Homo sapiens: one gene and its partners. The protein of the gene in region 2 purifies or fractionates together with the protein of the main gene of each other region. This does not show direct contact. Each region holds a gene or a part of one and is shown on either strand. Other genes may lie near its edges.

Evidence for each region.
Region 1: the proteins of TSHR (region 2) and BORA purify together in Homo sapiens (affinity purification with mass spectrometry; 3 studies listed by BioGRID and IntAct, with this or other methods). This does not show direct contact.
Region 3: the proteins of TSHR (region 2) and ZNG1A purify together in Homo sapiens (affinity purification with mass spectrometry; 2 studies listed by BioGRID and IntAct, with this or other methods). This does not show direct contact.
Region 4: the proteins of TSHR (region 2) and POTEF purify together in Homo sapiens (affinity purification with mass spectrometry; 3 studies listed by BioGRID and IntAct, with this or other methods). This does not show direct contact.

The regions. Positions count from the first base shown.
Region 1 is NC_000013.11:72,737,923-72,744,951, forward strand, and holds part of BORA (protein aurora borealis), read left to right. Parts: intron 1-39; coding exon 40-121; intron 122-5,614; coding exon 5,615-5,680; intron 5,681-6,582; coding exon 6,583-6,639; intron 6,640-7,029. UniProt on the Homo sapiens protein: Required for the activation of AURKA at the onset of mitosis.
Region 2 is NC_000014.9:81,084,606-81,091,634, reverse strand, and holds part of TSHR (thyrotropin receptor isoform 1 precursor), read right to left. Parts: exon of another isoform or gene 3,720-7,029; coding exon of another isoform or gene 3,682-3,719; coding exon 3,607-3,681; exon of another isoform or gene 567-3,606; coding exon 492-566; exon of another isoform or gene 1-491. UniProt on the Homo sapiens protein: Receptor for the thyroid-stimulating hormone (TSH) or thyrotropin. Also acts as a receptor for the heterodimeric glycoprotein hormone (GPHA2:GPHB5) or thyrostimulin. The activity of this receptor is mediated by G proteins which activate adenylate cyclase.
Region 3 is NC_000009.12:162,047-169,075, forward strand, and holds part of ZNG1A (zinc-regulated GTPase metalloprotein activator 1A), read right to left. Parts: intron 2,403-7,029; exon of another isoform or gene 2,357-2,402; intron 1,992-2,356; coding exon 1,932-1,991; intron 424-1,931; coding exon 386-423; intron 1-385. UniProt on the Homo sapiens protein: Zinc chaperone that directly transfers zinc cofactor to target metalloproteins, thereby activating them.
Region 4 is NC_000002.12:130,084,222-130,091,250, reverse strand, and holds part of POTEF (POTE ankyrin domain family member F), read left to right. Parts: intron 1-3,113; coding exon 3,114-3,184; intron 3,185-4,863; coding exon 4,864-4,908; intron 4,909-5,255; coding exon 5,256-5,437; intron 5,438-7,029.

The DNA of each region.
Region 1 (7,029 bases), on a different chromosome or scaffold from region 2:
TGGAATTTATGCCTAATTGTATGACTTTAATTTTCCTAGTTTTTCACTAAAGATGTCATCGTACCCTCTCCTTGGACTGATCATGAAGGGAAACAGCTTTCACAATGTCATTCCAGTAAATGTGAGTGTACTAAAAATGATATGAATAAAAATCAAAAAAGTCGGTGAATATAAAGCAACATATCATGAAGTGCCAGTATATCTGCTTTGTAAGAAGCTTGCTTTAAAATTCTGGATAACATAGAATTTAACTCCTTTTAGGGTTAGAATTAAAAATTTGACTAAAATTTATTGAATTGTTTTTTAGCTGTTATACTCTGAATTTAACTTTTTCTTCATGACTATTGTGAATGTCAGTTATAATGATGGTTATAGAGGATCCATAGATGAAGAAATAGTTGGTATTGAATATAGAGATGAGTTGTTAATGACTTTAGCAGTATTTTGAAGGTTAATATTTTAGATAAAACCGTAAATTGTGTTGCCTTTTGCTAATTTGCTGATTTCTTATAAAGGTAAAGAAAGGATGAAGACTTAATATGACCTCTGGGACAGTGTATTATTGCTGAGTATCTGCAAAATTAATAAGGAAATTAAAGGGCAAGCCAGTAAGCTAACAATTATCTTTCTACCTCCAGGCAATGGTTGTCATATATTTGTTCTCACTGCTCTTTGGGTTGTGAGGCAGTATTCAGGAATCACTTGTATATATGCATCCCTCATCACAGTGGAATTACACTGTCTATTGTAGTATACCTTAATTATGCTCTCAGTATAAGAGGGAATGTTTGTTCCATTCTTTATCAAAAAACACAACATAATAATACAACAATAATAGGTAAGCTGGGTTAGTACTTTCTCTATGCCAGGACAGTGCTAAGTGCTTTCAGTAATTTCTTATAACTCATATGAAGTAGGTGTAATTATTGGCCCCATTTTATAGGTAAGAAAACCTAGTTTTAGAAAGATGAGAGCATTTGTCCAGGGTTACAGAGATGATAAAAGTGGGAAAACCTGAATTCAAAATTCTCAAATCAGATGCTGTATTCTTAGCCATTATGAATTAGTGGTAGCACGCAATAGTAGATGGAAATCTGGATTGTAAAACCTCCTACTTTTATAAACCAGAGAGGTGACCTTGATCAAATTATTCTCTTTGTACCTCAGTCTTTTATTTGTGAAATAAAAGGATTGAACTAGAGTTGTCCATTTACATCCCCCCAGCTCTAAAATTGTGTGTCCAAGGTGGCATTCTCATAGATACTAGTTTTTCACCCCCAGATTCTTTACTGTTGGATTTTTTCAACAGATGAATCAACCTTCTTAAGTGATTTTTTAAATAACATTTTTGTATTCCAAGTATCCTGTTTTAGTTCAAGTGATGCAGGATCAAGAAGATGCTTAAAAACACTTTAGACTCTTTGAAATCTAATCAAGCCCACGATAACAGTGCAGTGGTTAATAGGATAGGCTCCAGAGCTGTGCTGTTTACTGTGTTGTTGGGAGACAATTCTCCATAGGCCTCACATTTCTGCACACCTTTCATGAAGTGGCATGGACAAGTTCTGTTCCAAACTATCTTTTCTAGGGTGTTTGTCTTGGAAGGTAGAGATAGTGTGTCCCACCAGAGCAGAGGGTAAGTTTGTTTTGCTGTCCAGTATAGTAAAGATGATGTCTCCCTCTGGAGCAGATTTGTTTGCAGTCTCTCTTAAAAGAATGGGATTTCCTAAGCTTGGGGTTCCTTAGCTATGGTGAAAACCCATTGTGTGTCCACCAGCCACCTGGGTATTTTAATTTAGAATCTTTTAAGATAGAGAGCACTCCTCCCATGATTAGGAGAGACACAAGATGGAAATAAAAATTTTATTACTTACAAGTCCTAGGGGTACACAGCATACCTGAACACCACACAGGGAGGTCAGGAAGAGAGAGAAAGGGACCCATGGGCCAACGCCTTTATTGGGTCCAGGGCATTATCCAAACAGAGTTTTAGTTGGTGGGTTTAAAGCAAGCAGGCATGCATTGAGGAGGTCACACAGTGACTGAGAGATAGTCACTGTGGCATGTCTGTGTAGTCCATGTGCGGTATGAGGGTTGGGGGGTCAGTCAGGTAGGCCATATGTAGATGGCCCATAGGGAGGTGGTTACCAGGAGGAATTTATATAAGGCAGATATCTGGATCAACCACATTGAGGTATAGAACTGGAAACTGTGTCGGGTGAATGAGCCCTGCTTTTTGTATGAGAAAGTCCAGCTTGTATGCAGAATTATAAGAATTCACTGCACTGGACTGTTTCATGTCATCTTCTTGGCACTTGGGAGCAAAGGGAATTAATAGGAATGTTAAGTTCATGCTGCCTGCTGTGCTGAAAATAATAAAGTCCTTTATCTCTGCCCCCAGAAGCCTCATGTCTTTAGCCAGCACCAATGGAACTTTGACATGTTCACCTGTTAGTTGCCAAGTTGGGTAGAATCTTAGACCCTTTATAGTTCTTGACAGTTGTGGCCACGTGTGACTATTTAAATTTAAAGTTAAATTTAAAAATGGAGTTCCCCATTCACAATATTCACATTTCAGGTGCTCAATAGCCATGTGGATATCGAGTAGTATAGATAGAGAACATTCCCATCATCACAGAAAATGTTCTATTGGATGCTACTTTAGGGCCAAGGTTGGCAGCCCTTAAGTGTAAAGGATTCAATAATAAATACTTAAGCCTTTACTGACCACACAACCTCTGTTGGAACCACTCCACTCTACTGCTGTACCACAAAAGTAGCCGCTGACAATATGTAAATGAATGTGAGTGTGTACCAGTAAAACTGTATTTAAAAAAATAGGTGAAAGGCCAGATTTGCACCATGAACAATAGTTTGCTGACCCTTACTCTAGTGTAATATTATCTAGGTTTGAATTGTACCCAGTAAAGCTCACTAGCTGTGTGACTTTAGATGAGTTACTTAGCTTTTCTGTGCCTCAGTTTCCTTATCTATAAAATGATGGTTATTGTGGTACCTCTAAGATAATGTACCTAGCACATGGTGTTTGGTTATCTACCTAAAGATTAACAAATAAAATGGTGAATGAGGGGAAAAGTGGTTTTGTTTATACATGTTAGCTTGTGCTGGTAGCATTTACTATTATTAATATTTATGCAGCAAGGTGCTTCAGTGCATATCCTCATGTGTTTTTATTTATGGACTTGAGTGAGAATTTCCCTGGGATATATACGCAGGTAGAGGATTTCTGAGTTATAGAATATATCGTTACCTAATCTGACTACACAGTATTAGAGTGCTCTCTAGAATATCTGCACAGTCTGCACAGCCCCAGCAGTCCCTAGGGTTCCTGTGTCCCAGCATCCCTGCCTGCCCTTGGCATTATCCAGCTTTTACATCTTTGCCTTTCCTATAGGTTATTTGACATTCTAAATGATTGTTTCAGTTTTCTTTTTGTCTTCATAGACTAATGACCTTTTACATTTCATAGAAAATGTCTATTTGTAATTCATTGATATGTTTCAATTGGAGTTGCTAACCTTTTTTTTCCTGTTAATTTCTAAGATACCTTACATATTGTGGTTATATTGGTCTTAAACATTTCAAATGTTATCTCCCATTCTGTCATATGTATGTTACTCTTTGTTCTTGATATCCTGGGTTGCATAGAAATTTTTATTTTGGTGCAGTCAAATCCATCGATTTTTTTTTTTCCTCATTTGATTGTGGTCTTAAACTTGTCTAAGCCCTTCTAGGGGAAGCAACCAAAACACTTGGAATAGAGTTGAAAAGTGATGTGATAATGTTGCTGTAGGTGTCTTTCTGGTCTGAGGAAGGCAAGGAAGGCATGCTGGCAGAAGATAAAATTTAAGCTGAGATTTGAGTTAGACTCTTGGAATGCAGGGGAGAAAAGGCAGGGAGGAGAGAGCATAAGATAATACCTAGAGATGAGAGAGATACCTGTTTCTTGTTTGTTTGTTTTAGGTACTCAAATAATATTTAATTAGATGGCAACCATGCTAGAGAAATAGACATGGTTTTGAAAGGCTTTGTAAGCCATTGAGGTGTTTGGATTTTATCCTAAAGACTATTGCAGGGTTTTAGGCAGAGAGAGTATTGATTACATCTGCCTTATAGAAGGTCACTCTGCATGCAGTGACAAAGTCATCTGCATCCAAAATTTTCTTTATTTACCCGTTTTGATAGTATTTCACAGGGAAATTTAATTTATTCAGCAACCCACTTACCCATTTTAAAATTTAGAATTGTTAGGTTACTACACTCTATTTTGTCATTTTATTTTAGAATTCCTGAGTTGTTTCTGGTTTTGGGGGGAGGGGGGGTTTGTTTGGTCCCCTTGCTTTTTCTTCCTTTTATCTTACTTATATTAGTCTTTTTGAGATGGTTTTGGTTTTTGAGTTTTTTTAATCTGGTGATTTTTCAATTTATAAAACTTTAGAGTTAAAATAATTTGCACCCATATTTTTAACTCTTCTTGTGAAAGAAACTATATGGTTTTATTGATCAAATTTCAGGTTTTGTCAAAATAATCTGGCATTTTAATCTGTTGAGGACATTGAGGGTAGCTAAAAGGTATCCCTAACCTTTTAAGGTTGACGTCATGAAGAGTAATCATCATTTCCTTAAAAAAAAAACATTACTTTGGGATTCATCAGTCCTACTACTGGGTATTTATCCAAAGGAACCAAAATTACTATTTCAAAGAGATACCTGCACTCTCATATTTATTGCTGCATCGTTAATCACAACAGCCAAGATATGGAGTCAACCTAAGTGTCCATCAACAGATGAATGGACTTTTTAAAATGTGATATATATATATATACACACACACACACACACACACACACACACACACACACACACACAAAATGGAATACTATTCAGCCTTAAAAAAGAGGAAATTTTGTCATTTGTGACAACATATATGAATCTAGAGGACATTATGCTAAGTGAAAAAAGCCAGCCACAGAAAGACAAATACTGAATGATTTCACTTATATGTAGAATCTAAAAAAGTCAGACTCTTAGAAGTAGAGAATAGAGTGGTGGTTACCAGACGGTAGGGAGGAGGGGTGGTGGGGGAGATGTTGGTCAAAGGGTACAAAGTTTCAGTTAGACAGGAGGAATAAGTTCTGGTGATCTGTTGCACAGCCAGGTAACTATAGCTGATAATGAGGTATCATATAGTTCAAAATTGCTGAAAGTGGATTTTAAATGTTCCCACCACAAAGAAAAGTATTTGAGGCAATGGATATGTTAATTAGCTTGATTTGCTCTTGTCATAGTGTATACATATATTGAAACATCACATTGTACCCCATAAATGTATACAATTATTTAAAGAAAAATGTAAAAAAAATATTGCTTGGTGACTCCTTATTTGCTGTGGTAATCCTTTAGTTTTATCCTTGTATTCCCTCAAAGGTAAAAAAATAATAGAAACATACCAAAATATATACTTATATATGCAGATTTTTTTTAATGTTGCAAAATAAGTTTCCACTTTCTTAATTTTTTACTTTGGAAAAAGTAATGCTAAAGCAAATGAAGAGTATAAAACATAGGATTTTTCACTTAAAATGTCTTACAGGCACTAACATAAATAGTGACTCTCCAGTTGGAAAAAAGCTGACCATTCATTCTGAGAAAAGCGATGGTGAGTATGAACACAATTTGAAAAGAAGGATGTTCCATATTAAGCTACATTGAATTCTAAACCCAGTTCAGGTAGTAACACTTTACTCTGGAATTGAAATTGTTTCCTTTTTTTTTTTTTAATTTATTTTTGTTTTTTTGAGACAGGGTCACACTCTGTCACCCAGGCTGGAGTGCAGTGGCACAATCAAGAGCTCATTGCAACCTTGACTTCCCGTTGACTTCCCGAGCTCCAGTGATCCTCCCACCGCAGCCTCCTCAGTAGCTAGGACTACAGGCACCCGCCACCACACCTGGCTAATTTTTGTATTTTTTTGTAGAGACAGCATTTCGCCATGTTGCCCAGGCTGGTCTCGAACTCCTGGGCTCAAGCGATCTGCCCACTTTGGCCCCCCAAAGTGCTAGGATTACAGGCATGAGCCACCAAGCCTGGCCTGTTTGGATTTTTTCAATGAGCTACATAATAACCATATGAGAGCTGACCTTTAAAAACAAGTATAGTAGAACAGATGCATCCAGCCATGTTTTAGAAATAGCACTAGTGTTTTGTTTTCTTGTTCAAAGCATGTGAATTGATTTCTGGTCTTGGAAAGCATTCTTTTGAAAATTGGTTAATGTGAGAAATCTCCCCCCAGATATAGGCTGGCTTCCTTTTCAAGTGCCAGTACCAGAGCCAGGAGTTAACTTTTACTATTAACACGTTTACACCAGTTGCGGAGAGTGTGGGAAACCACTTCTAGAAAGGTGGCAGGGTATGTGATAGAATGCAGAAATGAATAATTCCATTTGGCTGGAACATCACGGGGAGATGATTGACTGGGCAGCACATGCTGAATTGTATAGTGTATACTTTCATTGATTTATCCCATGTTTGAATTTGTTTATTTATTTGCTTGTTTCCAGCTGCTTGTCAGACATTGCTGTCTCTTCCTGTGGATTTTAATTTAGAAAATATATTAGGTAAATACTGTATTTGTTTAAACTTTTAATAACTTGAACCAAAGGTTTTGTTTGGCTGGCTTTTTGTAAATGGTAACATGGGAAATATGTGGCAGTGCCTCTTTCTAAAGAAGTGGGGAAACTGCCCTGAAATTTCTCTTTTTCTTGAACATGGTTTGAACTAGCCTTATTATCATAGTGAACTTTATTACTATAGACAGAAACTATAAACATTTTATTGATATTATACTAACAATGTAGCACTTAAAAACTAAGGAATAATTTAAGATGTAAAACATCAAATATGCAATTAAACTTTGCCCTCTTTTTGGGAAAAAATTCAAACATAGTGCATGCTGGCTTCTTAAAAGTTGAGTAACAGAAGTATAATTGCCCTTTAAAATGACTAGC
Region 2 (7,029 bases):
AAAACTCTATGAAAAATAAGGTATCATAGTTATCATCAAATATTCCTTCTATTCAACCATTCCCATTGGCAAAGAAACATTGCATAATTTCTTCCATTTAAAAACAAAAACACACAAACAAAATCTTTTCTCCTGACTCAATATCTTGCAATTACTGAGCTATTTTCTGCTCCTTTTAATAGTAAAACCTCTCAAAAGAGTTAATTATGGTAACTCTTTCTAATTCTGTCTACCCAAGTCTCTCTTGAGCCCACTCCAACCAGCACTCCACTGGAACTGTTCTTGGCAGAGTCACCAACAAACCACATTGCTAAAGCCAGTGGTTATTTCTCAGTCCTTGCCTTACTTCATGCCAGTGTAGTCACACCTGATCATTGCTTACTCCTTGAAACAATTGCTTTACTTATCTTCAACCTACCCTCATGACTGTATTCTAGTTCTTGTCAGTGACAAACAAAATATTGTCAAACATGGCATGTGTGCATACTTACAGTATAAAGAATATATCAGTGGAATAAACTTTGGTCAGGTCAGGGAACATTTTAAGTCCAGTGTTGAAAATGCCACTAAATTAATGAAAAAAAGAGAAAAAAAAGCATAGAATTTAGGTAAAAAAATCAACACATAGGAAGGAGAATAATGTAATAGCTGAAAGCATGGGTTCTGAAGACAACCTGTAGTCAAACTCCCAACACCTTCCCTAAATATCTGAGTAACTATGGGCAAGTTCTGATGGTTGGATGAGATGATATTCCCTCAAGGCATAATAATTTAATCCAGTCCACTGGTGTCAATACATCTGCTCGGCTTAGAATGCTCTGGAGATTGTTTTAACCAAGTGGGTTTACTAGAAATATAAATTCAGTTTTCGTGTGTGTGTGTGTGTGATTTTCTCGTTTAATTGGAAAAAATTATGTGTTTGTTAGTGAAGGGCTAAGAAGAAGATGGGACAGGAAGATATGATGACTTTAAGCCAGCTTCCTCTTTCAAGCTCTACATGATATTATGCTGTTATTTTGCCAAGAATATCTTTCCTACAGCAGTGACCTGAGAGTACCATTATAACAGTACCATTTAAAAAAATATGTCCAGAGAGCCGGGCACAGGGGCTCACGCCTATAATCCTAACACTTTGGGAGGCCAAGGCAGGTGGATCACTTGAGTCCAGGAATTCAAGACTAGCCTAACATGGCGAAACCCTGTCTCTACTAAAAATACAAAAATTAGCTGCATGTGTTGGCATGCGCCTGTAATCCCAGCTACTTGGGAGGCTGAGGCATGAGAATCACTTGAACCTGGGAGGTGGAGGTTGCAGTGAGCCGAGATCATGCCACTGCACTCCAGCCTGGGTGACAGAGGGCGACTCTGTCTCAAAAAAAGACAGTGTCCAGAAAAGGAAGGAAACCAATCAAAGACAAAGTCTTTACCTTCTGTAGTTTATATCATCTACAGAAAAATGTTAAGATTAAAAGACATGCATAAAACACCATGAATACAAGAATTCTCAGGCTCCTGATGCCTCCCAGATTTAGTTGTTTTAACATTTGTTGCAGCTACTTGAATGTAATTAGAATTTTTTTTTTTTTGAGAATTTGGCATAGCATAGAGTGAGATCTAGACACTACTCAGTAAAGCTCTAGAGAAGGTCTTCTGGTAGAAAAACTATATCCATTGATACTCCTTCTGAGGCAAATTCAGACTTGACTCCTTCTAGAGAAGAAGGCATAGGATTTGAAGAGGCAGCAGGAGCCAGAGGTCTCAAAATCAGCAAATGGGAGGGACATTCCAGATAACAAAGGAGAGAGGTGAGATTCCATAAGGTATATTTGAAATACAGTAAACGAACTAGTTCAATTGCAATAGGTGCTCATGAAGAACAGTAGGAGGGAAAAAGGTCCAAGAGTCAAGTGGGGTCCATATACTTGGATCAAGATCTTTCTATTCTTCAAAAATCTCAAACAAGTCCCTTAAAACCATGCTGTGGGTCTTCTTTCTGATGTCTTCTCTAATTACCTGAACCCCCAAACACTGTATATGTCTCTCCTTCGTCACTTTCCATTATTCTTCTGTAGGAGAGGCACTTTTCAATTTCATACACATCTCCTCAACTAGATTACAGGCAAGGACAATGTCTTAGAAACCTGTATGTTCCCCACAGAGCATATAGTGGGGGATCATCACATCAAAGGGTTATTGTATTATTTGAAACTCAGAGTCCATAAGAAGAGTGATTGTCTTGTCCCATAAGCTTTCATGGCTTTCCAGACATCCTTTCATCTTCATATCCCATCAGTGTCTTCCATTCCCCTGGCATCTCTCACACCCACCTCTTCAATATACAACTATTGGCCAGGCACAGTGGCTCATGCCTGTAGTCCCAGCACTTTGGGAGGCTGAGGCGGGTGGATCACCTGAGGTCAGGAGTTCGACACCAGCCTGGCCAACATGGTGAAACCCCATCTCTACTAAAAATACAAAAATTAGCTGGGCATGGTGGTGCACACCTGTAATCCCAGCTACTCGGGAGGCTGAGGCAGGAGAATCGCTTGAATGCAGGAAGTGGCGGTTGCAGTGAGCCAAGATCACACCACTGCACTCCAGCCTGGGGCAACAGAGCAAGACTCTATCTCAAAAAAAAAAAAAAAAAAGCAACTATTTTTAGTTCCCCAAAGAAGCTGCGTGGTTCCCTACATTTGTGTCTTTATCATGCTATTCCATCCAGCTAAATTTCTTTTCTATCTCCCCATTCTTGTTCAAGATACCCTCTATTCATCCTTAAGGGCTTATCTCATAAAATATCTATGATAACATAAGTTTGTTTTGAAGGTCTGGATGAAGATGAACTGAAATGTTAATAGTGCTTATTTTGGGGTTTGGGATTAAGTTTTTTTTAACAATTTTCTTCTTCATACTCTTTGTTTTCTAATCTTTATAATGCATGCAAGTAGGAAAAAGGACTCTTCCACCTGGTATCCAGGGGGCCTGAGGTCATACAGACACATCCACTGAACACATTTGTACTGAGCGCCTACTCTGTACTAGGCAGTAAAGATTCAACAGAGAAAAAAAATGTTGTGGTCCCTGGATTCATGGAGCTTATGGTTAGCTCATAAGGTGTTTTCAAAGCAAAGCAGTGAGTGCTGGACATTTGAGTGCTGGAGTGGGAGGTTGAAACTGTTGTCCCTTCTGTTTTCCCTCCACTCCCCATGGAAGTGTATTTTACTCTTTGTGGGTTTTTTTTCCTGTGTAACAGCCACTCTAATAATATTGTTGTGATACCCATTTTCAAACAAAATTGACCAACTGGCTCTCAGAATTTTGTTTTGTTTTGTTCTGAAATACTACATTTAAGGACCACATATACATGATAGCATTTTCTCCCTCCTGTTTCTTGGAGCAGGTCTCTGGTTCCAGCATTATGTGCTGACTTTTGAATAGGTTTTAAAAATGTGGATCATTTCACCCGATACCTTGCCCCCGACCCAGGCTATACACCATTAAAATGAACCTGGACCACATCATCTAGGGAGATTCCTGGGAGACAACAGCATTAAATCTGACCCCCTCCCCCCAGAAAAGTAGGATGGGAGAGGATTTAATACTTACAGGAACTTTAGGAGGGGGAGCTCTTTGAGGGCATCAGGGTCTATGTAAGTTAAGTTCCTGGTATTCCGAATTTCTCTGTATAAGTTACAAGGAACACAGTCACTATAATGCATCCGTATCTGTTCTTATCAAAGACAAAACAACATAAATCAGTTTTAACAAACGTTCATGAGAAAAATATGCATTTACGCCACAGGGTACCCCAGGGGCTGTAGCTGCCAGGGGTCCCATCAATGACAAACTACTCCTGTCTCCTCACGGGGACCCAATGGCTGCTCAGCTCTTTTGCATTGTTGGCTTGGTTTCTGTCCACTTTAATTTATGGGCTACATTGTTCTTAATTGTAGTATCAGAATTTTTTTTCTTTTACATTTAGAGAAAAAAGAAAAATCCCTCCAATGATTTGGTGAGGAGTTGAAGACAAATATCTTTATTATTTATAAGTATTCTGGCCAAGACAATGAGTGTTGGAGTGGGAGGATGAGGGAATTTTATGATGAACGACAGCACAGCAAGATGGACAGTAAGGCTCTGTCATTGCCATACCAGATGTACAGAAGTGGTAAGTCTTCACAGTTCACTTGGGTTTATTTTGTCATGTCAGCAATCGAAGACACTTCTGCATGTATAGTGCAATATCGTGTGTCAGTAACTTACATACTTAGGTTTATATAAATGCTGATCAAGAATGCACAGTTAGCATTAGAGAAATAAGTAACTGCTAGAAATGAACTCTCACTGGTTAAATTAAACATATTCAACATAGGTTGATTGGCTAAAAGAGTTTAAGGCATTCCCTATGCTTACATGAAAAGTATATAAGAACCCAGTAAACCTTTAGCATTTCTCCTTAGGAGTGGCACCTAAAAGAACCAGCATCTAGTCATTGGTGGTACCAGTCAGAAAGCTTAGAATGTGACCTCTGTAATTTTTAAAGTTTTATTGAAAAAGAATTTACATTCCATAAACTTCAAACATTGTATGTAGGCATACAGTTCAATGATTTTTAGTAACATTACATGATTTTGAAACCATCATCACAGGTTAGAACATTTCTGTCAATGACAAAAGTAACCATAGGCCCATCTGCAGTTAGTCTCCACTTGCTCCTTTATGCCTAGAAACCACTGATCAGTTTTCTTTCTTTATAAATTTGCCTTATCTGGACATTTCATATAAATGGAATCATATAACAGGCAGTCTTTTGTGTCTGCCTTCTTTCATTTAGCATAATGTCTGTGAGGTTCATCCATGTTGTAACATGAATTAGTAGTTCACTCCTTTTTATTTCTGAATAGCCCAGATGGACTCGAAATAGAGTCTTGGCTCTGCCACTTCTGATTATATGACCTTGGACAAGTTTCTTGGCCTCTTTGAGCCATAGTTTTCCTGTCTGTAAAATAGGAACAATTAACAACACCTCTTTTGTGGGGCTTTTGTGAGGATTAAATAATATTCATGAGGGATTTTATGTTTGGCCTCCACATAGTTAGGGCTCTAAAATAATGCTTTTATTATTGTTATTTTCATAAGTGCAATGAAAGCTAGAAGAGACATCAGGGACTTGGGACTGGAGATGTTGTGACATTCTTGCAAAATTAGAAAAAACTCTCTGGTTTTTTCAACTAGGCATTTCAACTAAGGACACTGAATATGAAACAGACCTTGGAAAAGAGAGGATGGAGTTAACTCTGAGAACAGAAATCACCTACCTCTCTCCTCCCTAAACACACAGCTTACTGTCTATAATAATATACCCTTACTGGTCCATTGTCCTCATTAACATAACTACAATTCCAGGAGACTCTTGCCCAGGCAAATTGCTTTATTGTTCATTACAGAGAGTTTTTGAAACAAAGAACCATCAATGCTTCAACAGAAAGCATCAACAGTTTATACCCCAAGATCTTAGAACTCCTCACTTCCAAATCCTCACTATGCTAATCCTAAACTATTATGTCATGATTTTTACCTAAACAAGACCCTGCATGGAAAGATCCTCTTTATACAATCTTTCATTTTTTTGTCCTGGCTTTAAAATGCAAAGCCCATATCCTTGGAATTCCCTCTGTCTTGGGCAAAGTGTGACAGTTGGCCACCCTACTCCAAAATCTCATAATTTTCCCACCTTGCCCCTCTAGAGACTATCAATCTCTGTTGAGGTGGTTCTCTCTTTCCAGGGTGAGCAATAAACTCCTTGCCAGAGCTTTCCATTGGGGGAGGAGGGTTTGAACTACTGCCAGAGACAAACAGATGTAAACTAGATGCAGGAGTTTGGAAATTGAGCAGGGTTTGCAGTCTGGAAAATTGCTCCACAAGAGACTGTCGTTGAACGAGTAGTCCTGAGTGAGTGGTCTAAGAGAACGTCAGAGTGAAAGAAAATGCAGCCCACCTGGGTCAGCTGAAAAGGTAGAGAATAAAAGGGAAATGAAATGCAGCTGCTAGTAACAGTTGATTAAATGAGGCTGGCAACTTACATGGAGGCTGGAAGAGGAGAAATGTGGGAGAGGCAGCAAGGAGAGAGAAGGAAACATGAAGGAGGAGAAGATTTCTAGAAGGAAATGTAAGAGCTACAAAGGAGAAAGATGAATGAGAGACCCCACAAGAAAACAGCAGGGAAAAGAAGCTGCTTTCTGAGGTAAGGCAACAGCTTACCACTTGCTCACAAGTGACTTTTGAAAAGTATCTCCTGAAGCAGAGAAGGGGTGGAGTGGTCGTAGACTGCCAGTAGTTTAGCTAAATGGTGAGAGATAACAGCTGGGTGTGGTGGCGCATGCCTGTAAGCACTTTGGGAGGCCGAGACAGGTGGGAGGCCGAGGCAGGTGGATCAGTTGAGGTCAGGAGTTCAAGACCAGCCTGGGCAACGTGGTGAAACCCTGTTTTTACTAAAAATGCAAAAATTAGCCGGGTGTGGTGGCTTATGTCTGTAATTCCAGCTATTTGGGAGGCCAAGACATGAGAATCGCTTGAACGCAGGAGGCAGAGGTTGCAGTGAGCTGAGATTGTGCCACTGCACTCCATCCTGGGCGAAAAAGCAAGACTCTGTCTCAATCAATCAATCAATCATTAAATAGAGAGGTAACATAAGAAGCAAATGCAACTAGTAAAACCTATTCAAAGATAGGAAGAAAGGAAGGGCAGAAGTGAGTACAAAAGAACATCTAATCAGAGAAGGGTGAAAGAGGCGTTCAAATTTGAATGCCTTCAAGCATGCCTCTGAGGGTGAATTTGAATCACACCATTTTGAGTTAAGCAATTATGGCCTGAGTGTGCAGGAGGCTAGCTATGCTGCCAGAAAGCTGGAGACATTGGAAGAAAGAAAAGCTGTTTGTAATACAGCACACTAGGAATGGAGATGCCCTCCAGAGCTGAAGATGGCTGTGCCTCCAGCAACCTGAGGCCCTGAGTGACTGCCTGAAGGTG
Region 3 (7,029 bases), on a different chromosome or scaffold from region 2:
GTGTTTAATAGTAATTTAACAAGAAAAATAAGATCTCAGATGCTTTATCAAGCTCAGCTTCTTCTATGGAACAGAAAAACTTACCAATATTGGGGTTGAATCCTTGTGAAGAGTTATACATACCAAACTCTACCCTAACCCCATATGCTTATTACAAATTATAATTCCAAATTTTATCACCAAATCAAACTCAGAGTAATAGAAAAGAAATATTTAACACAAACTAATAATTAAAACACAAATTTCACCTATTGTTCAGGATATCTTTTTGAGAAAGGTTTTTGTTAAAGAAAATTTCAGATACAAACATAAAGAAAATTAAACAATCAATCCCCATATTCCCAGCTCTCAATAATGACCCACTCATAGCAATCTTTCAACTTACTTTTAATCCATATTTTGAATCCACAATAGTTATGATACCTACAAAGGAAAAAACATTTTAATCACTTTTTAAAAAGAATGTTTATTAATATTTGTACAACCATACTTCAAAATGAAAATTAAAACTAACCTATTTCAGTTCACAAATACTACTCAATAAAACAATGTACTGTTTTTTTCTCTTGCCAGTGCTGCCATTTAATTAAATTCCAGTAATAAGTCAATGCATTTCCTGAGTGGCTAGCACTATTTTAAGGCACTAGAAACGATATAAAACAAATAAAAATTTTAAATTAAATAAATAAGAAAATAAGATTTCCTTGGCACTGAAAAAGCTTACAATCCAAAATATAAGTCAAATTTCATAACATAGTCAAATGTGATAAGTACATAAGACAGGTTATTTCTAGTTTATTTTCACATAATCAAAATCAAGACTTTTCTTAAGATTTAAATTATTGCCTAAAGAATGAGACATCTTAAGGTATCATTCCTAACATCTCTCACCAAATCCAAATCCAACTCATAAATGTTCTACATAACATATGCCTAAGTTTCCAAACTACCAATTCATTTTGCAATCTCTGAATATATGCTGATAACAAAAGAATGAGTTTAATTATGCCTAAGGAATTCAACCAGTTACCCGCCACATATATTAGAGCTCAATGATGGGGCCCAGCTTAATAATTCTTAAATTTCTTAATGATTATTACTTTTGAAAAAGTAAGAAAATTTCGACTGAGAAAGGGAGAAAACATAGTCGCTTAACTAAGAAAGTTTCTAATATATTTTAAATGAAGGCATATCATTGCCCAAAAGTGTTCAGGTAAATAAAGTAAGACAGGAGTGTTTAATTCTTATCTTCAAGAGAAAATAAAAGCAAAAATATGATCCTCATATTGCCTGGAGGATTAAAATAAAAGGCTCTAACATTATATTAAGGGCATAAATCAAACAACAGAGGATACAGAAAACCTACAAAGCATTTTTTTTTTTAAAGAAAACCTTAGTGGAAGCACTAAATTGGAAGTTGAGTGACATCGAGTTCCACCACTGTCTGGGGTTTTTTAATCTATATGAACAAAGATTTCATCATTAAACTAAAGTGTGAAAAGAACAACAATGCAAGGAATTAAAGTTATAATATGAATGAACAACAACAATAAGCTTAACCATAAAGATTTTACTAAAAAACAAAAGAGGCAGGGTGTGGTGGCTCACGCCTGTAATCCCAGCACTTTGGGAGGCCGAGGCTGGCGGATCACCTGAAGTCAGGGGTTCAAGACCAGTCAGGCCAACATGGCGAAACCCCGTCTCTACTAAAAATCCAAAAATTAGCCAGGTACGATGGTGCACGCCTGTAGTCCCAGCTACTCGGGAGGCTGAGGCAAGAGAATCACTTGAACCCAGGAGGTAAAGGTTGCAGTGAGCCGAGATCATGCCACTGCACTCCATGCACTCCAGTCTGGGCAACAAAGTGAGACTCTGTCTCAGAAAAAAAAAAAAAAACAAGAAAGATAAAAGAAAACTGTTTTTTAACTTACCATCAAGATAAATATCACTCCCTAATTCAGCATCAACCCAAAACATAGAAGCCACTGCACCTGAAAATATATAATATTCATCAAATAAAAATATTTCTTCACACTGAGAAACATGATTCTATCCATGTTTTAATTTGCCCTGATAAAATTAACAGGTAAACACATATATCTTCTTATGGAAATTATAGTGATAGAAGCTTTAACTATTTATAGCAAAAGGGAATTATAGTGATAGAACCTTTTACTATTTATACCCATTCCATTTCCATCTCTCTTGTTATTTCCTTTAAAAAAGACCAATTCTAACCACATATAAACAAAACATCATTCTTCTACCGATGCCATAATAATTTAATTAACAGATATTATCAAACAATTTGAGCAGTATGGCTTTGTGCACATCAGACTTATTTTTATTTTCTCACCTCTTTAATATGATAATCATTCAATCATAAATAGTGAATTATCACTCTAAAGGAAAAGGAAAACAAAACATAGATAATTCCAAAATCACTTGCCCAAAAAAAATTTACTTGTAATCTGTGTAGAACTAGAAGTAAAATTATATACTCTATGGCATTACTAATTATTCCTCACACTATTTATTTAGTACTGTATAAAACCTGGGTCTTAGGAAAAATTTTTCCTAAATAATAAATTAAAACTTGCTTTTGACAGAAATTGGTTCAGTACCAAACCACATACCCTGATTAGTATGCCACAACGCAAGAAAAAGAAAACTGACAGCAAGGAAAGTATTTGATTTTTGAAAGCATCACAGGCCCAGTTAGTGACAGGGCTGTCTAAAAGAATGAGTGTAGGAGAAAAACAAGGATAATCAAACTCATTCCAGCGTCTAAAGCTGTCCACCTACTCTGCCAAGATGTGGTCCCCCAAGCATCACTCGGTGTCAACAATGAAATACCTGTCAGCTGTTTACAGTGATTACTCATGCAAGATATAGCAAGGGCCACAAGATCTAATGGTTTCCTGATACCTATTGATTTTTTTCCCAAAAACTTAATAGTTTTCCAATTTGACTCAAATAGGATTTGTGAGTAACAGGGGCTGAATCAATGTCTGTTCTTTTCAAGGAAATTACTTTACCATGACAATTATTTAACTTAGAACTGGAGCGTGTCAGTCTCCAAAACGGGAAACAACTGAATTGCCAATAAGAATTTTGTTCACTTTCTTGGCTAAAACATGATTTTAATTAATGAGGGGGGAAATTAAATCTACTGTATCACTACTCCAAACAATAAGTCATTTAAAAAAGCATGAATTTTTTCACTCAGTAAAATATCTAACATACATAAATCATTTTGTAATTTTTAAAAATTCATTGATTTTTATTCCAATAAATAGTTTACAAATCCTACTGTTAATATTTGCCTCTTAAGTTGAAATGTAAGAGTATATTAATGCTTTATTCTAAAACTGGTATTTATCTTTGATATAATACTTGCCAGACTACATGAGAAAGATCTATTTAAAATTTGGATGTAGGTATTTAGGGGGAGTAAAGATGAATGAACAAAATTGATCAGTGGCTCTCAAATCAGGGTGCTTTTCTCCCCAGGGAATATTTGGCAATGTCTGAAGATGTTTTTGGTTGTCTTAACTAGGGGAATGCTACTGGCATCTAGTGGGTAGAAGCCAGGGATGTTGTTAAATATCCTACTCTGCACAGGGCAACCCCCTCACAACAAATAATTATCCAACCCAAAATGTTATTTGTGCTGACACTGAGAAAACCTGAACTACATTTTAGAATCTCCCTTCTTCAAAATCTAATAAAACAAAAAATAAAAACAAAAAATAAAACAAAAAGGCCAACATTTTATTAGCAGCAACCAAATATAAAAGGGCCTGCCATAAATTTTGAAGACTGATAGTCAAAATAAGAAACAAAGTTATATGTGATTGATGGTCATTCCCAACTCTACCCCTACCTCCAATAAGAGGTTGTAGGGAAATAGTTTACAAAATCCTAAACACTTACCAGAAATACACTCCAAAATGACAAAAAGTAGAGCCGAGGAATGAATAAGCAACACAAGGAAAAGTCAACAAAAAAATTTCAAGAGTGAGTTTTAACCATCTCTTTGCTTTGGGAAGGAGAAGGTCAGGTCACATTCTAGGGCTCAGAACAAAGAGAAATGAGAGCTCTGAGGTCGAATGATGTCCCCATACAAGGCAAAGGAATTTTATTCATAAGCAGTTGGGCAGACCCAAGAGTGAAATACTTGGTACTTCAAGAGAGCAGAGCCTAAAAGCCACATTGCCCCATTTGGCTCTCTGAATCACCACTTTTCCCTTCTCTTTCCCTCCACTCCAACAATATACAGCTTTCAAACTAGGGCTCAGGAGAAAAACAAACTTGGGTAAGGAGAGTGGAGTATTAAAAATATTTCCCATCAGCACCACATAGAAGTTCTCCCACATCAAGAAGAAACATGTATGCATATGTATTACAGCCTGACAAAAAGAAACACGCACATACAGGGAATAAAAAGCAAGAAAGAACACAAAATGAAGAAATGAATAGGGCACACAAGTGGCAAAGAACCCATTCTGGAAGGATACATAACCCAATAAAAACTAAAGAAAATTCTCAACAACTTCATCATAATGAAGAACTTGAAAACAATACAACCTTATAATAAACAAGCTCAAAAGCAAGAAGAAGCAGAATAAGATGAAAATGCGTTTGTAGCGCTAAAGAAACTTAGAGCCTATATAACACAATGACTTAACCAATTAATTCATTTAAAATATCAAAAACAGGACAGACACTGGAGAAAACAGAATTATTGACAAAAAGAAAGGCTTCAGATGATCACAGTAAATGCAAAGGTAAAAGACAAATCAAAGCAATTAGAATACATACGAACAACAAAAGAAAATTCAGTATTAAAAAAACTGGTGTCATGAAGTAGAGGATCTAATAATTTGACCAAAAAAAAGTATTCATGGTAATAAACAAGGAAAATGTTCTTAGAAGAACTAAGGGCATACTATAATTTAGGGAAAAATGATTATAAGTGACACTTAGATATACCTTGTTTATATTACTGAATTTCAAAAATAAAGAAGAAAACTCTCAGGCATTTTAGATTAAAAAAAAAAATTGCCTTCAAGGAGGTAGGGAGAAAAATCAGACTTTTCTACAGTAACACTAGATGTCCCAAAATAATAAAACAGGGACCACAAAGTTCTAATGAAAGTGTTCCCAAACAAGTTATTTTTCAGGAACGAAAGCAATAGACAGACATTCTCAAGCATTAAAGAAAACAGCAAGCATTGAAACTCAGAGACTATAATACTCACAAATTCTTCCTAATAAAAAGAGAAAACATTGGACAAAGAAATCCAGCCAATCAAACACTAGGAGATTATGGAACAACATTTACAAAGTTGAGGGGGAATAAAGTGTGACTGATAAATTTTATACCTAGCCAAGTAATCCTTCAAGTAATATAAAAACAAAAGACAAATATTTTGAATCAATGAAGTGTATAAGAACCCAAAGAATGCATGCAGTACCTGTAACTTGAAAAGACTGCCTGACAATGAAATTCAATCAGGAGATGGACTAACTCGGGAATGGAGAAGCAACAGTACTGGTAATAAGCACCAAAACTATTAAAACATAGAACTAAAAGAATTATGACAGAACCATGACAACATAAAGAATATGATCAACATGAAACTAGGCCAATTAATATCCTACAATGGCCTGTAAGTGTTCAAGTGAAAGGAACAGTCACCTGTTTCTCACTTTAAATCAAGAGCTAGAAATGATTATGCTTAGTGAGGAAGTTATGTTGAAAGCCAAGATACGCCAAAAGCTAGGTCTCTTGAGCCAGTTAGCTAAGTTGTGAATGCAAAGGAAAAGTTCTTGAAGGAAATTAAAAGTGCTACTCCAGTAAACACACAAATGATAATAAAACAGCCTTATTGCTGATATGAAGTGGTCTGGATAGATGATCAAACAAGCCACAATGTTCCCTTAAGCCAAAGCCTAATTCAGAGCAACCCTAACTCTCTTCAGTTCTATGAAGGCTGAGAGAGGTGAGGAAGCTAGAGAAGAAAAGTTGGAAGGTAGCAGAGGTTGGTTCACAAGATTTAAAGAAAGAAGCCATCTCCATAACATAAAAGTGCAAGGGAAAGCAGCAAATGCTGATATAGAAGCTGTAGTAAACTACCTAGAAGATGTAGCTAACATCATTCATGAAAGTAGCTACACTAAGCAACAGACTTATTTTTTATTTATTTATTTATTTATTTTGAGATGGAGTCTCGCTCTGTCACCCAGGCTGGAGTGCAATGTGCAATCTCAGCTCACTGCCACCTCCGTCTCCCGGGTTCAAGCCATTCTCCTACCTCAGCCTCCCAAGTAACTGGGATTACAGGCTCCCACCACCAAGCCAGGCTAATTTTTGGTATTTTTAGCTGAGATGGGGTTTCACTATGTTGGCCAGGCTGGTCTTGAACTCCTGAACTCGTGAACTGCCCACCTCGGCCTCCCAAAGTGCTGAGATTACAGGCATGAGCCACCGAGCCCGGCCAGCAACAGATTTTTAATGGAGATGAAATGGCCTCCTTTTGGAAGAAGATGCCATTTAGGACTTTCATAGCTATAGAGAAGTCAATGCCTGGCTTCAAAGATTCAAAGGACAGGCTGACTCTCTTGTTAGAGGCTAAAGCAGCTGGTGACTTCAAGTTGAAGCCAATAATCATTTACTATCCTAAAAATTCTAGGGCCATTAAGAATTATGCTAAATCTCCTCTGCCTGTTTTCTATAAATAATAAAGCCTAGATGACAGCACATCTGTTTACAGCACGGTTTAGTTTAAGCCCACCATTGAGATCTACTGCTTAGAAAAGAAAAGATTCCTTCAAAATATTATTGCTCATTGACAACGCACCTGATCACCCAAGAGCTGTGATGGAGATGTACAAGATTAATGTTGTTTTCATGCCTGCTAACACAACATCCATTCTGCAGCCCACTGATCAAGGAGTAACTTTGACTTTTAAGTCTTATTTAAGAAATATATTTCATAAGGCTATAGCTACCATAGACAGTGA
Region 4 (7,029 bases), on a different chromosome or scaffold from region 2:
ATAGGGAGCCAACAATGTGTGCTGGAGGGGGCTCATTGGAGAAATTTGAGCAGGGGAGCCACAAGATTAAATTTGAGTATTAAGGCATTCTGGTTATGGTGTAAAATGGGTTAGCAAGCTTTTTCTTTAAAGGACCAGGTGGGAAATATTTTGGACTATGTGGTCTCTGTCATATCTACTTAACCGTGCTGTTGTCTGCTGTTGTAGTGTGAAAGCCACCATGATTATATGTAAGCAAACAGGCATGACTGAGCTCCTATAAAACTTTATTTACAAAACCATAATGCAGATTGGATTTGGCCTGTGGCCTATAGTTTCCTGGGATTGATGGGAGATAATCATGCAAAGAAACCAGGAGACAAAGGAAGCTTTTGCAGTAGTCAGCTATAGTTTCCATGTCACACATCCTTGGAGTAGCATCAATGTATTACAAGGTTTTCACCCGTCCATGGTAAAATAAATAACGTTAGAAATCTCAGTTACTCATTTTACTATGTTGGCCTTCGTTATGCCTTTTTCACTTGTTTTGCTTAATTTTTTTTCCTGTAAGAAATAACATTAATAGTTGGCAGTTTTCTTTTAAATAGAAGTCATTTTGTAAATGTTTGTGTTCCCAGTGGCAGTGGGAATATAAAACAGAGGCAGAAGAGAGGTATAGTCAATATGATTTAGTGATAATTGAATGAGAAAGGCTTGGGGGACAGAGAGAAATCTCAGATGATGTACAGGTTTCCAGATTGCACACTAGTATTTAACCTGGACATGAGGAAGGAGTAGGAAATTTTCTGGTGAATACAGGAGAGCAAAGAGCAGCAGGTCAGCAGGAATGACTAATGTTTTTCGATGCATGTTTAATGGAATATTCGTGTAGGGTATTTTGAGTAGGTAATTGGATAATCAGCATTTATAACTCGCATCCTACTAGTTTGACTCTAAGTAATAAGACTTGTCAAAGATCCAAGAATCTGAAAGTCAGTAATAAATGTCCATGTGCATCATCGTCCGTGACAGAAAGTCAGCATCCACAGAACACAGAATTGGGACAGATGAACTTAATAGATAAAGATGAATATCGGAGTTGTTCCTCTTAGGGAATGATACTCTCCATGACCTGTGTGAGTCACAGCTGCCAGAAAAGAAAGAGCAAGGAGCGTATGAAGGCAGCACAGCAAATTCGGTCCTAGAGTGCCCTGCTTGGCTTCATGTCATAGTTCTGACTTCTAAATAATCATTTTCTGCAAAATGTGCTTTTTGTTTTTCCCTCTTGCCGCCTGCAGCCAATCAGAATCTTTTTAGCAGGACATAATGAAAAGAAGTAAGAGAAAGAGTGTTTTTTTGTAATGGGATAGTATTTAACGTAAACTTGAGAGTGAGTACCAGGATTATACTTAGAATTTATGGACTGGATGGGAAGACTGGATAGAAATCTAAAGATTGCTGACTCAAACACAATGTGGTTTCTTTGATTTATTTTCACAGCTCTGAATTCACGACTGTTAATTGTATTCATATGCATTATAACTTTACAAAGCATCTTCCGAAACCAAATATTTACTGATTTATTATAATTTGTATGACTTTATTATAGAACTGACTTTCCAAGTGTTCATGAGAATTGTTTAGAATTTGCTACATTGTATCATCTCAGCTGTGTCCACATGAGCTATCTGTCACCTTGTCTTAATGAATAATTGTTCACTAGGAATATTGGTTTTGGCATTGAAATGATCTATATCTAAATGCAGATAGGACCCGGGACCACTTTTGAACATTAATGTTCAAGCATCTTAAAATTACACATAATGCTTTCATAATCTGACTTCTGCCCCACTCTCCATCTTTAGCCCTTTTCCCTGTGTGCCCTGTCTCTGGCATTACTGAACTGCTGGCAGTGCCCTACTCACTCATCCTTCTATTGTAGGCAAATACTTTCACTCTTTCAGGAGTCGCTCCCGCTCTTGCTGCTGCGTGGCATGCCGTCACCCTTTCCTGCCCTCTACACCTTTTAATCTGGCTAGTCTCAATATTTAAGTCTCTGCTTGGGCATGTGTTCTAGAAAAGCCATCTCTGACATGCTTTATTTTAATTCTTTTTAAACCCTAATGCCTAGCATGTATTTAGCAGGACTCAATAAAATATTTCTGAGTAAAACAAAGACTGTTTTTACAAAGATGATGTGCAAGACTCTCCCCTGCAGTCTTGGAGCAGAGGGGACAGACGTGGAGGAATAATGTACAGTTTAGGTGGTCAAGATGCAGTAGAAAAATCAGTAAAGTACTAAGGCAGCCTCAAGGAAGGAGGTACCTGTTTATTTGGGGAAAGACATGCAGAATCAAGGAAGACTTCATATAGCATTGTTTCAAAAGATGAAAATAAGGCCAGGTGTGGTGGCTCACACCTGTAATCCCAGCACTTTCAGAGGGAATCACGAGGTCAGGAGATCGAGACCATCCTGTCCAATGGTGAAACCCCATCTCTACTAAAAATACAAAAATCAGCTGGGTGTGGTGGTGCTTGCCTGTAATCACAGTTACTCAGGAGACTGAAGCAGGAGAATCACTTGAACCAGGGTCGCGGAGGTTGCAGTGAGCTGATCACACCACTGCATTCCAGCCTGGTGACAGAGGAAGACTCTAGCTCATAAAAAAAAAAAAAGAAAAAAGAAAAAAAGAAAATAAATTTGTCAGAATAGTGGAGAGAAACATTTTAGATATTAGGAAGATGTTGTACACTAATAAAGGTGTCAGCAGTGATTTTGGAAATCATTTATAAGGTACTATTAGGAAGTGGAGAACAGTACACTGTGTCACCTTATATGTTTCTACTGTATTTTAAAGCTGTGTTTCTGGTGGTTTTGTTCATGGATGTTGGGTGGATGAATTTGTGAGGGAATTTTTGACATGTTTGTTTGTCTTCAATCTGGTGACATCTGCTATCTCCCCAAGTGGGTTTTTGAAGTTTTTGAGAATTATTTCTTAAATGACAATTTCACAAAAGATGAAACACTCAATTTATGAAATAAAATGAAATGTCTCAAATCTGTTTTTAAAAGGCAATAGTTTTTAACTGTTTTAAGTGGTTGATTTTAACTGAATGTATGGATTTTTCAACAGAACAAGACTTAAAGCTGACATCAGAGGAAGAGTCACAAAGGCTTAAAGGCAGTGAAAATGGCCAGCCAGAGGCATGGAAACTTTTAAATTTAAACTTTTGTTTAATGTTGTGTTTTTTTTGCCTTAATAATATTAGATAGTCCAAATGAAATTACCTTTCAGACTAGGCTTTGAGAATCAGTAGATTGTTTTTTTAAGAATCTTTTGGCCAGGCAAGGTGGCTCACGCCTGTAATCCCAGCACTTTGAGAGGCTGAGGCAGGTGGATCACGAGGTCTGGAGATCGAGACCATCCTGGCTAACATGGTGAAACCCCGTCTCTAGTAAAAATACAAAAACTTAGCTGGGCGTGGTGGTGGGTGCCTGTAGTCCCAGCTACTCGGGAGGCTGAGGCAGGAGAATGGCATGAACCCAGGAGAGGGAGCTTGCAGTGAGCCGACATCCACCACTACACTCCAGCCTGGGTGACAGAGCGAGACTCCATGTGAAAAAAAAAAAAAAAAAAATTTTAATAGATTCTTAAAATTTATTGTAATAAAATCAGCAACCTTATTAACAGAAGAATCAATAGATTCTAATTTAATATTTGATATTTAACTTCAACATAACCCACTATAAAATTTAAAATACTCTTATTTTAAAATATTCTTATCTGCCTTCTTGATTAGCTTATAGCTAATCTCTCCTTTTGGAATAGAGGCAAAAACAAATTTCAGAACTTTGTTTGTTCTTTTATTTTTACAACACCCTAACATGATAAAGAAAGTAACATCAATGATTGAATCATATTATTAAGCAATAGGAATTATGAACAATGTAACACTGATTCCCTGAGCTGGATTCATGGTTAAAGAGTAATCATGGCCTGTGATTGAAAATCCACAGTTTTATATTGTCAGTCACTGATACCAAGGTTAAGGACATATCCTGCCTTGTGGTCTCTCGTTGACCTCAGTGTTTCTGTTCAGGGAGGGAACCAGGTCATAAAAGCAACCCAACTGCCTATTACAAGAACCATATCTTGCAGAATGGGACCTTTGGTGTTAGTGCACAAACACAATAACATTCTAATTTATTTCAGTTGCAGAAAATCAGTAGAGATTAAAAAATTTTATCTGCTGTCATTAGTACACATTAGAATATATTAGAACTGGACTTACGCAGATAATCTGGATACATAACACTATCATATGACAGTATATAATTTCAATTAAAATGTGAGAATTTGCATTTCTTTCTGTTTGGTGTTGATTTCGGCTCCTAATAGTTTAAAGGGTGCCTACAATCCAGTTAGGAATCTTTTAAAAAAGCACTTCAGTGCACTGTAGGTGCTCACTAGTTAGGGTTTCATGAGGTAAACTCTTTTCAAGTGAGGAAGATTTTGGAACACTACAAATCATCTGCTGATTCATTTTTGGTAGATTTAACACATAACAAATTAAATTTAGTCCAAACAAATAGTGAGAAAGTTAAGTTTGCTGGTTCATGTTTTTCTTCTCCCTTTGTCTAAGGTGAATTATTTTTCACATGTTAGAAGCCAGTGATGTGGCAGTAGCTAAACATAGATTAAAAAGTTAATTCTTAATTTTAATTATTATTTATTTTAACAGTTTAATTTTAATTACTTTCTAATTTTTATTGTCCATACTTGATTACTTCAGAATAAAATTATTTTAAAAACATGCACTCCAAAAGAGGAAATGTCACAGAAATACAACAAGCAAATTAACCTTCTGTTTTTACATCTGCAGAAAAGATCTCAAGAACCAGAAATAAATAAGGATGGTGATAGAGAGGTATACCTTTATATTCAAACGTTTGTGTTGAATTAGATTTTTACATTATGTTGTTTAACAAAGTGTAGTAAATGTAGGCATACATGATCCTATCATGTAAGTAGCATAAATCATCAGTGAAAAATTAAATAGTTAACTCAGAATTCTGTACATTGAATTTTGAAGAGGTGCAAACCCTAGAGCTATTCTTTCATTATTATGGAATAATCCCGAATGGTGCCATAAAATGCTAGGTAATGCCACTTTAGGAGCTTTAGACCAATTATTTTATCTTTCTTGGTTTTAGTCTGATTATCAATAGATAATGTGCCTAAAGTAGATAATTTCTTATTCTCTGTATTTTCCAGCTAGAAAATTTTATGGCTATCGAAGAAATGAAGAAGCACAGAAGTACTCATGTCGGATTCCCAGAAAACCTGACTAATGGTGCCACTGCTGGCAATGGTGATGATGGATTAATTCCTCCAAGGAAGAGCAGAACACCTGAAAGCCAGCAATTTCCTGACACTGAGAATGAAGAGTATCACAGGTAAGCCTATGGCAACATTGAACAGGAGGTAACTTTGTGCTGCCAAACTAATCCTAATTTGAGCTAATATTCATGATGAACAAATTTTATACTTTTATTAGGATATTGAGCCTTGCCTGTTAATCAGAAAAATGAAAATCAGCAAACAATCAGTTACCGTTTTTTTTCCAGTCATTAATTTATTTGAAAAATAACCAGTATTGGCAAATGTGAGGGAAAAGACATTTTCTTCTCTTTTCAGTGAACTTTTATTTTAGCTTCGGGGTACGTGTGCAGGTTTATTATATAGGTAAACTGTATCATGGAGGCTTGGGGTACAGATTATTTCACCAGCCACATAGTAAACAAAATACTCGAAAGGTAGTTTTTTGGTCGTCTCCCTCCTGCCATGCTCCTCCCTCAAGTAGGCCCCAGTGTATGTTATTCTCCTCTTTGTGTCCATGAGTTCTCATGTTTAGTTCCCACTAATGAGTAAGAATATGTGGCATTTGATTTTCTGTTCCTGCATGAGTTTTCTTAGGATAATGGCCTCCAGCTCCATCCGTGTTGCTGCAGGGGAAATGGTTTCATTGAAAAAGACATTTCATATACTGTTGGTAAATACATTTTGAACATTAATTGAGTAGCATATTCACACACACATATATAACAGTAAGCATATATAATACATGTAAAGGATATTTGTATAGATATGTTATATGTATACTTATGTATAAGGACATTTATTATAGTATTATGTAAAAAATTTGGAGCTAGTCTAATTCCTTATCAATAGGAAATAGCTCAATTTCCATATCCCCAAAATAATGTATTATGCAACCATTTTTAAAAAATGAGGTTAGATGTAGGGTATACTGATTATTTCACAATTAAAATGTATTTAAAGCGTTTAGTTTGATGACACATCTTAAGAGTTCTTGTTAAATTTCTTGTAATATCTGCTGTGTTGCAAATGGAAGCTACATGCTACATTGACACTGTACCTTGTTAGCAACAAGATTGCTAGTTACTAAATTTTTGTTGTCAGTGCCTGAGTGCTGAAATATTGGACCCTCAATCTGAATATTGCCAAGCGATTGTACATGGGGATCTATATTTAATATAAACATTTCAGTATATTTGGTAAAACTTTTATTAAAATACATCAAAGAATCTTTGATCTACTAAACCAGGAGTTGGCCAGCTTTTTCTGCAAAGAGCTAGTTAGTAAATATTTTAGGCTTTGTGGACTACATATATTGATTTTCTTGAGACAGGGTCTCACTCTGTTTCCCAGGCTGGAGTGCAGTTGTGTGATCATGGCTGACTGCAGCCTCGACTTTCTGGGCTCTAGTGATCCTCTGACCTCAGTCTCTACTAGCTGAGACCACGGGTGTGCAACATCACACCCAGCTAACTGACACTATGGACTGTAAAGTGAATAAGCATGGCTGTGTTCCAAGATACTTGACTTACAAAAACGGGCAGTGGGCTGGATTTGGCCCACAGGTGCTTATTTGCTGACCCTTGTGCTAAAAGGAAGGTGCTGCTAATGCAGTGACTTTTATTTGTAAAAGTGCCCTGCATGTGTGACATTATCCTCCCTTTGAGAA